3 separate regions of the Homo sapiens genome follow, and all the other regions are linked to region 1. The links come from fine-mapping of genetic effects on gene expression. A gene starts in region 1. Each other region holds a variant in brackets. All regions are shown on one strand. Distances are between the middles of the regions.

Region 1 (2,766 bases):
AACAAACGTGTTTCTTTCATCCACCCTGCTCATTCTCTTCCTGCAGTTACTCCTAGCAAATCCTCCCCGCCCTCACCTCTAGGAATTCCTCTACACCCAGAGAAAGGAGTTTCTTTCCTCACTGCGGAAACCTATCACCGCTTCCTTTCCACAGATGGACTCCAAGGGGCACTCACTCGTGTGCCCACTAAGGGATTTCTCTCCTAATTCCACGCCTTCCAAGGGAAGTCAGAACTGCTCAGTTTCCCCCGGTGACCACATACACGTGTCCAAGTGAAGCCTCGTCTGGGGGAGACTCAGTTCCCACACTTCCCCCTGGCCCCTGTGGAGGCCCTCTGTCTCCCCTGCGTGGCCCTCCGCCTGGCCCCTCGCACTCACCAGGAGGAGGTTGTGCGCCACCAGGTACCCGAGCCGCGGGCTGCCCCGGATGCCGGGGGCCAGGCGCCCGGTGGCGTAGCCGTGCCAGGCCACCACGTAGGGGTTGTCGATGGTGATCCAGTACTTGACCTGACCGCCGAAGTGGCGGAAGCAGAGCTCCGCGTAATCCCTGAAGTGGTCGGCCAGGGCGCGGTTGGCCCAGCCGCCGTAGGCGTCCTGCAGGCGCTGGGGCAGGTCCCAGTGGTACAGGGTGACCACGGGCTGCACGCCCAGCTCCCGCAGCCGCTCCAGCAGGCGCCGGTAGTAGCGCAGCCCCTCGCGGTTGGGGACGCCCGCGCTGCCATTGGGGAGCACTCGCGCCCACGAGATGGAGAAGCGGTAGTGAGTGACCCCGAGCTCGCGCAGCGCCTCCGTGTCGCGGAAGACGTTGTTGTAGCTGTCGCTGGCTACGTCCCCGGTGGCGGGCTGCAGCGGCGACGGGGCGCCCAACGGCAGACTGGCGTTCCGGGAGTCTCCCGGGGGTGCCAGGGGGTGGTGGGTGAACGTATCCCAGATGGACGCACCCTTGCCGTGCTGCTGCCAGCCGCCCTCGGTCTGGTAGGCGGCGCTGCCCACGGCCCAGAGGAAGCCGTCGGGGAAGGTGCCCTGGAAGAGGCCCGCGGCCTCGGGGGCAGGAGGCCGCGAGAAACGGGCCCAGGTCTGCGCGCCGTCGCCCGGCTCCGCACGCAGGCGGCGGCCGCCCAGGCCCAGCAGCACCAGCAGCAGCGACAGCGACGGCGGCGGCGGCCGCGGGCGGCGCGGCGGGGCGCTGGCGGGCATGCTGCGCGGGAGCCAGGCTCCGGGGCCCCGCGCCGCGCCCCTTTATGCCCGCGCCCCGCCGCGCCCGCCCGCCCACCGCCGGCGCGCCCACCCCCGCTCCCCGGCGGGCTCCGCTGGCAATAATTACCTGCGAGCCGGGACTGCCTCCGCCCTGGCACTGGGGGCGGGGGCAGGGGCGCCGAGGGCGAGGGGTGCCCGGGAGGGGCGCGGCAGCGGGCAAGGTGCGGCAGGCGTCGCCCGCGGACGTCGGAGAAAGGCACCTGTTTCTCCCAGCTCCCGGGAGCCGTGCAGGACGTTTCGTGGACGCTCAGGTTCATTCTCTTTGCCTGCCGCGCGTCCTCTGAGAGCAGCCCTGGAGCGGCTTCGTCGGGGAGAAAAGGCGCCGACCAACTTTCCCCGACTTGGGGGCGGGATCCTGCCGGGCCCTAGCGGAGCGCGCCGCTGGGGAAGCACCTGCTCTCACTTTTCTCCCACTCGGAGGCCCAAAGAAGCTCCGGCTGGACATTGCTGGAGCCAATTAGGGACTGGCCGAAATCCTAGAGGGACTGCCAGGTGGGACAGCCGAGGGGGAACTTCGCCGTGCGCTGAAAGGGATTCCCCCTTAGGTGAGATGCTCGCGGGGAGACGCGCCCACCCGCGCCCCTCTTTCGAGGAAGACAAAGTAGATTTATGGGTTGCGTTGGGACTGGGGTTTTGCTCTCCCTTTTACTGTTACCTTTTAATAATTTCAAACCAGCACTCTATCTTTGATTAGATCTCTCAGAATACCCTGGTGAACTTCAAATCACAGTCGTTGATTGTTCTCCTGAAAAACCAAACACCAAGTTTCCAATTTTGAGTAAATCTCATTCACCTTTATTATCCTTTGGCATCTGTGTTACCTTTCGGCTCTGACTTAGCAGGTAATCTGTGCAAAGTTGTGCGCACAGGTCTGCTGGAGCGGGAGGTCCCTGGGTCGCACATTTGCCATCTGAGCTGTGGAGGGAAAGGGGAGGGAGAATTTAGCCGGAACACCCATTCCCATCCTCTACAATACAATGGAGCCATGACGTTTTTCCTGTTGCCAAAGAGCCCTTTTGACAGAAGTTGCAGAGCCACAGTGTCCATTTGGATGTGGGTAGATAGGATTGTGGCTAACCGAAATACAGTTGGTGGAGACTGAGAAGGTCTAGGCTCCACCTTTGTGATTTGGGGCAGGAAACCTCTGTAAGCCTAAGTTTCCTCCTCTATAAAATAAGGATGTCCTGTCTGCCCTGCCGCCTCAGAGGCTTGTGAAGTCCAGTGAAAAACTGCGCAAAGGTGACTCAAAGACAGAAAGCCCAGACAAGTGAAGGATCTTGCTAATATCCCTACCTCCCTACCCAGTAAGTCGTGCCTTAGTTTCCTCACCCGTACACGTGTGTTGAATGACCAAGATCCTCACAGAGGTGCATCCATTCTCCCCCAGTGATCTATCTTCCCTGCATTATTTAATACAAATTTAAAGGCAATAACATTTTAAATGTTGCAGATGAAGGTGCTTTTATTAATTCCCCTGAAATATAAGCACAAATTTATTCCAGTATTTTA
Region 2 (2,766 bases), 27 kb before region 1:
AAATTCCAAAATAAACCCACAGCCAACTGATTTCTAACGAATGCATCAAAGCAATTATGTGGCAACAGGAAAGACGTTTCAACAAATGATCCTTGACAACTGGAAAAGTGTATGAAAAAATTAAACCCCAATCTTGCATAAAAATTTGAGACAGATCATAGATCCAAAGCTAAAAGCTAAAACTATAAAACTTATAGAACAAAATGTAAGAGAATAGTCTCTTTATCTTGGAGTAGGAAAATACTTCTTAGAACACAGAAAGCACTATATAAATATACATATATTAAAATATCTCCCCTCAGTATGTGATTTGCCTTTACATTTCGCTAACATTTGATGAGCAGGTTTTAATTTTGACGTCGTCCAATTTATCAGTTTTTGTTTATGATTAGTATATAATTGACAAAATAATTATATCCGAAATAAATACGTAAGCCTACCTATCAGTAGTAAAAGAAAAATAACTCCCCTTCCCACCATGAGCAAAATATTTGAATAGATATTTCACAAGAGAATCTTCACCAATGCTCAGTAAACACATAGAAATGTCCTCAACATCAACACTATCAGGAAAATGCAAATTAAAACCCCAACGAGCACTCACACCCACTAAGATGCCTACAACTAAAAATACTGGCAACAGGCTGGGTACAGTGACTCACGCCTATAATCCCAGCAATTTGGGAGGCTGAGGCGGGCGAATCACTTGAAGCCAGGAGTTCGAGACCAACTTGGGCAACATGGTGAAACCCCATCTCTACTAAAAATACAAAAATTAGCTGGGTGTGGTGGCACGCCTCTGTAGTCCCAGCTGCTTGGGATGCTGAGGCATGAAAATCCCTTGAACCTGGGAGGCAGAGGTTGCAGTGAGCCGAGATCACACCATTGTATGCCTGGGCAACACAGTGAGATGCTGCCTCAAAAAAAAAAAAAGACTACCAACAAATTCTGGCAAGGACGTAAAACAACGGAAATTTCATACATTGATGGTGGGAGTATAAATAGTACCACCACTTTGGAAAACTATTTGACAGTTTCTTATAAAATTAAAGATAGATTTTCTCTATAATCTAGCAAGTTCATACCTAGGTATTTACCAAGAGAAATGACAACATAAGCCCCCC[A/C]AAAGACTTGTACAATATTAAGATAAAACTTACAAATTGATATGTTCAAAGATGCTGGCCGGGCACAGTGGCTCAAGACTGTAATCCCAGCACTTTGGGAGGCCGAGGTGGGTGGATCACCTGAGGTCAGGACTTCGAGACCAGCCTGACCAACATGGTGAAACCCCGTCTCTACTGAAAATACGAAACTTAGCCAGGTGTGGTGGCACATGCCTGTAATCCCAGGTACTCGGGAGGCTGAGGCAGGAGAATCGCTTGGACCCACGTGGCAGAAGCTGCAGTGAGCTGAGATCGCTGCCACTGCACTCCAGCCTGGGGAACAAGAGCGAAACCCCATCACAATTAAAAAAAAATGCTTATAGTAGCTTAAATCGCAATAGCAGAAAACTGAAAACAACACAAATGTCCATTCACAGGAGAATGTATAAACAGTGTGGTTTGTTTATACAATGGAATACTATTCATTAATGCAAAGAGTGAACTACTCTTCTAGGCAGTAATATGGATTAATGTCAAAAAGATTGTGTAGATTGAAAGAACTCAGACACAGAGTACATTCACAGAGTTGTTTGATTCCATTTACATAAAGTCCCAAAATCAGTCTGTGGTGATGGGAATCACAACAGCGGTTTCCTACGGAGGTGAGAATTGATTAGAAGTCACAAAGAAACTTTCTGGGGTAATGAGAATATTCTATATCTTTACTTGGATATTTGTTACAGATATCCATACACATACAGGTGTATGTAGTCATCAAAATTCATCAAATTGCTTATAAAACATGTGCATCAATTTTAAAGATCTATAGATTAATAAATATATAATAGATTAATATCTTAGTCATTGGCAAAGCTATTCAGGTATAGAAATATAATTACCTACAATTTATGTGGCAAGAGAATACTGATTTTCTCCGAAACATAAATTCATCTTTGAAACTACTACAGTAATCTGTTAGTTAAAAAAATATATATATTTAGCTTTTAATTGCAGGGATCATATTCATTCAACAAATATTACACTAGGCACTTTTCTAGGGGATTCAAAATATGATCCTGTTCTTATGGAGCTTACATTCTTGGGAAGAAGAGAGATAACAAATGAAAACAAAGCAGAGAAAGGATAGAAGGTAACAGGGATTGGGATGGGAAGGCAGTTTAGACAGGCAAGTCTTCTTCAAGGAAGCATTGTCTGAGGATCTGTAACAGAAAAAGTGAAGAATGCTAAAAAAGACTGGGACCTGAGATGGGGGTGTGTGGAAGGAGCAGAGAACCCGGAGGATTGGGCAGAGGCGGTAGAGGGTACGGGAAGGGCATTCCAGGCAGAGTTGAGCAAGTGATGAGAGCATAGACTCAGCCAGGCTTTCCTAATTCTGCCCCCTTATTAGCTGTGGGACCTTGGGCAAATTATCTGAAGTCTGTGCCTCTATTTCCTCATCTGTAAAGTAGGGATAGTAATAGCACCTCATGGTTATATCCTTGTGAGGATTAACTAAGTCAATACATGGAAAGCACTTAGAATTGTAAATGCTATGGAAGTGTTTCTTATTCAAGTGTTGTAGTAATGTTTGATTGGTAAGTTCAAAGATACTTACAGTATTAGGTTGGTGCCAAAGTAATTGCAGTTTTTGCCATTTAAAAAG
Region 3 (2,766 bases), 52 kb before region 1:
GGCCCATAACAGGCACAGGTAAAATAAGGACATTTAACATGGTACCAATTTGGGATAAAAGTTGGTTCAATCTCATCTCGTCTTTTACTAATAAAATATCTCTATCTGACCCATCCATCTTCCTCTAATTATATCTCTGTTGTGTCCTCTCTGGCTTACCACTACTGCCCCCTGTTGATTGAAATGTTGTATTTTGAAGCCTTGGGGCTACTTACCAGAGACTCGTGGTTCTCATAATTTAAAGGGGAAAAAATATGGTTATAAAACCAATATGCCTTAAATGCAATACTGTGACCTTGGAACACTATTGAATTTGCCATCTAACATGTTGGATATAAATTATCCAAAGCTTTGATTCACATGGAAAACCAACTGAAATGTCTTAGGCAAAATTTATGGTCACAGCCATAATTAGACAACAACTGGTATAATATCGAAAGGAAATTGAATTTTATAAACTGATCAATTGAGATTTTAAACAGAAAAAAAGGTCAGTCTATTCCAGCAGTTTATTAAGGAATAATGTTTCCGTTGAAGATAATGTATACAAAATAAATTAGGTCACTTAACATTAATTCATTTTACCATAAAGTAAACATATTGAAAAATTATACTAAAATCAGAAAGTCTACCAGAGATTTTTGAATCTCATAAAAATTAATGAGCCTTCAATTATTTACCAACCAAATAACAAATATACACATTTTAATGTTTTGTCTGTGTCATTAGATTATTTCAAAAGAGCAGATGGTTCAACATATTGATACAGAAATATCTGCTGCCAAATTATCTTCAGAATTCTATCAATCCAACATTTGTAAAATTTGAATCCAAGAAGGTAATTTGGTATTATTAAGTAAATGTGGGGCTTCGTTTTTCTAAATTTAGTTTTACCAAGGGTATTCTATGAAAATGTATATTCAAAGTCACAAATAAAATAACTAGAAGGCTTCAGGATGAATCATTTTGACTGTAATAGTCCCTAGTTTTACATTATTGAGCTCAAAATATCTGATTAACAAGAAATCACATGCACATTAAGGGTAAGTTGTATGAGTCTAGGAAAAAAATAACGTCTGGGGTAGATACCCAAGGTATTGAATATTTCCTATGTTCAGCACTGTGCTAAGATAGACACTCCCATTTCAAAGATGAGGAAACTGAAGTTCACCAAGGATTGCGTTACCCAAAACTACCCAACTG[T/A]AAGGTCATTTTGAGCCTGGTCTTGTTCTTCTTTCTCTGCCTTTTTATCTCAATAATATGTAGGTTGAAATTGTTTTCTTCTCTAACCCAATGGGTAAAAAAAAAAAAAAAAAAAAAAAAAAAAAAAAAAAAGCAGAGGTCGGGGGACTTGAGTAGTAGTCACCAAGTCTTTTCTGGTATGCAGAAATCATGTAAAACAAGATTTCACCATATTGTAGGTGTCCTGTCACCATTATTAGTGGCATTTCCACCCTTTGCTCAAGGTTCCCTGTGGGTTTTCTGGACCTCTTTCTCCTTGATATCAGACAATGGGTGTTTAACCACAAAGATATGGAAAAAACAAGTTCCAGGAAATGTCCTACAACCAGCAAAACTCCAACAATATTTAGTGGTTATAAAAATGGAAAAATGCAATGGGTCTGAGGGGAAAAGCTACACATTCTAGGAAACTAAGTATTTGGAGATGACATAAAGGGTTCCTCTAAAATACTGTTTTTGTTTACAGATAAAGAACTCAGCCTGAGAGAGAAAGATTACTGACTAGTTGAAAGACATGTGGATAAGGAAGACAAAAAGTTACAACCTTTCACTTAGTGATTTGTCTGGAGGCAACAATTTAGGACAGCAGTAAGTTTTACTGCCTCTCTACCTAGTAAGACAGGTTATCATTCCTTCCTCTGAATATATAGGATGGAGCTGTGTGGCATCTAACACATCGTCATTGCTGGCTGACAGGTGATCTCTATTAAACCAGTCTCTGGGCACAGGTGATGGCAGTGAGCTAATTCTGCTTATCATTTATTCCGTCATGTATTCAATTAATCAACATTTGTTGAACAATATCATGTAAGAGATACTGCGCTAAACACTGTAAAAAATATACCAGACAAGACATGGCCTCTGCCTTCCCCTCTAGAACCGAGGTCCTCCCATCCAGGATGGCCAACATGCTCCAAATTAACATGTTCCTTTCCAAGTGCAAATTTCCAGCAGCATTGCTCAATATTAAATATTAAACAAATATGCTATAGACCAATCTAATTACTTAGTACCAAAATTACTTAGTACCAAAAAAAATGTGAAATATCTCAATAATGTTTATATCAATTACAAGTTGAAAATACAATATTTTGGATATACTGGAAAGAATAAAATATATTATTAAAATTTATCTCTTCTATGCCTTTTTATTTTTTAATATGACTACTAGAAAATTTAAAATGAAATACATGGCTTGCTTGTATCTGTTGAACAGCACTATCATAAATAATTTAATGGAAAACTTCCAAGGCTCTAATAGAGTCTTCTTGTTATTATTTCAGAGACAGGTCTCATTCTGTTGCCCAAGTTGGAGTGCAATGGCATGAACATAGTTCACTGCAGCCTCAACCTCCTGAGTTCAAGTGATCCTCCCACCTCAACCTCCCGAGTAGCTGGGACTACAGGTGCACAGCACCACGCCCGGCTAATTTTTAGAAGTTTTTGTAGAGACGGGTCTCACTATGTTGCCCAGGCTGGTCTCAAATTTCTAGCCTCAATTGATCCTCCTGCCTTGGCCTCCCA

What was found. PIP is the estimated chance that this variant, and not a neighbour inherited with it, causes the effect.
Region 2: its variant is the best candidate, but not a certain one, in a credible set for the expression of KL in sigmoid colon (GTEx, PIP 0.83).
Region 3: its variant is the best candidate, but not a certain one, in a credible set for the expression of KL in blood mononuclear cells (TOPMed, PIP 0.87).

The regions. Positions count from the first base shown.
Region 1 is chr13:33,014,872-33,017,637 of GRCh38, reverse strand. It overlaps KL (klotho), which reads right to left and starts at 1,215. Exons shown (of 5, transcript NM_004795.4): 1 at 379-1,215. The coding sequence starts at 1,197. LOC124903151 (translation initiation factor IF-2-like) reads left to right here and starts at 1,185. Exons shown (of 2, transcript XM_047430819.1): 1 at 1,185-1,802. The coding sequence starts at 1,196. RefSeq lists enhancers at 190-249, 458-1,035, 1,036-1,611 and silencers at 320-419, 1,110-1,179.
Region 2 is chr13:33,041,396-33,044,161 of GRCh38, reverse strand. The region is part of intron 1 of KL (klotho); the gene reads right to left. Among named protein-coding and RNA genes, the nearest start is that of KL, 26 kb to the right of the region's middle. The variant A/C (reference allele first, on the strand shown) is at 1,125.
Region 3 is chr13:33,066,977-33,069,742 of GRCh38, reverse strand. No RefSeq gene overlaps it. Among named protein-coding and RNA genes, the nearest start is that of KL, 52 kb to the right of the region's middle. The variant T/A (reference allele first, on the strand shown) is at 1,204.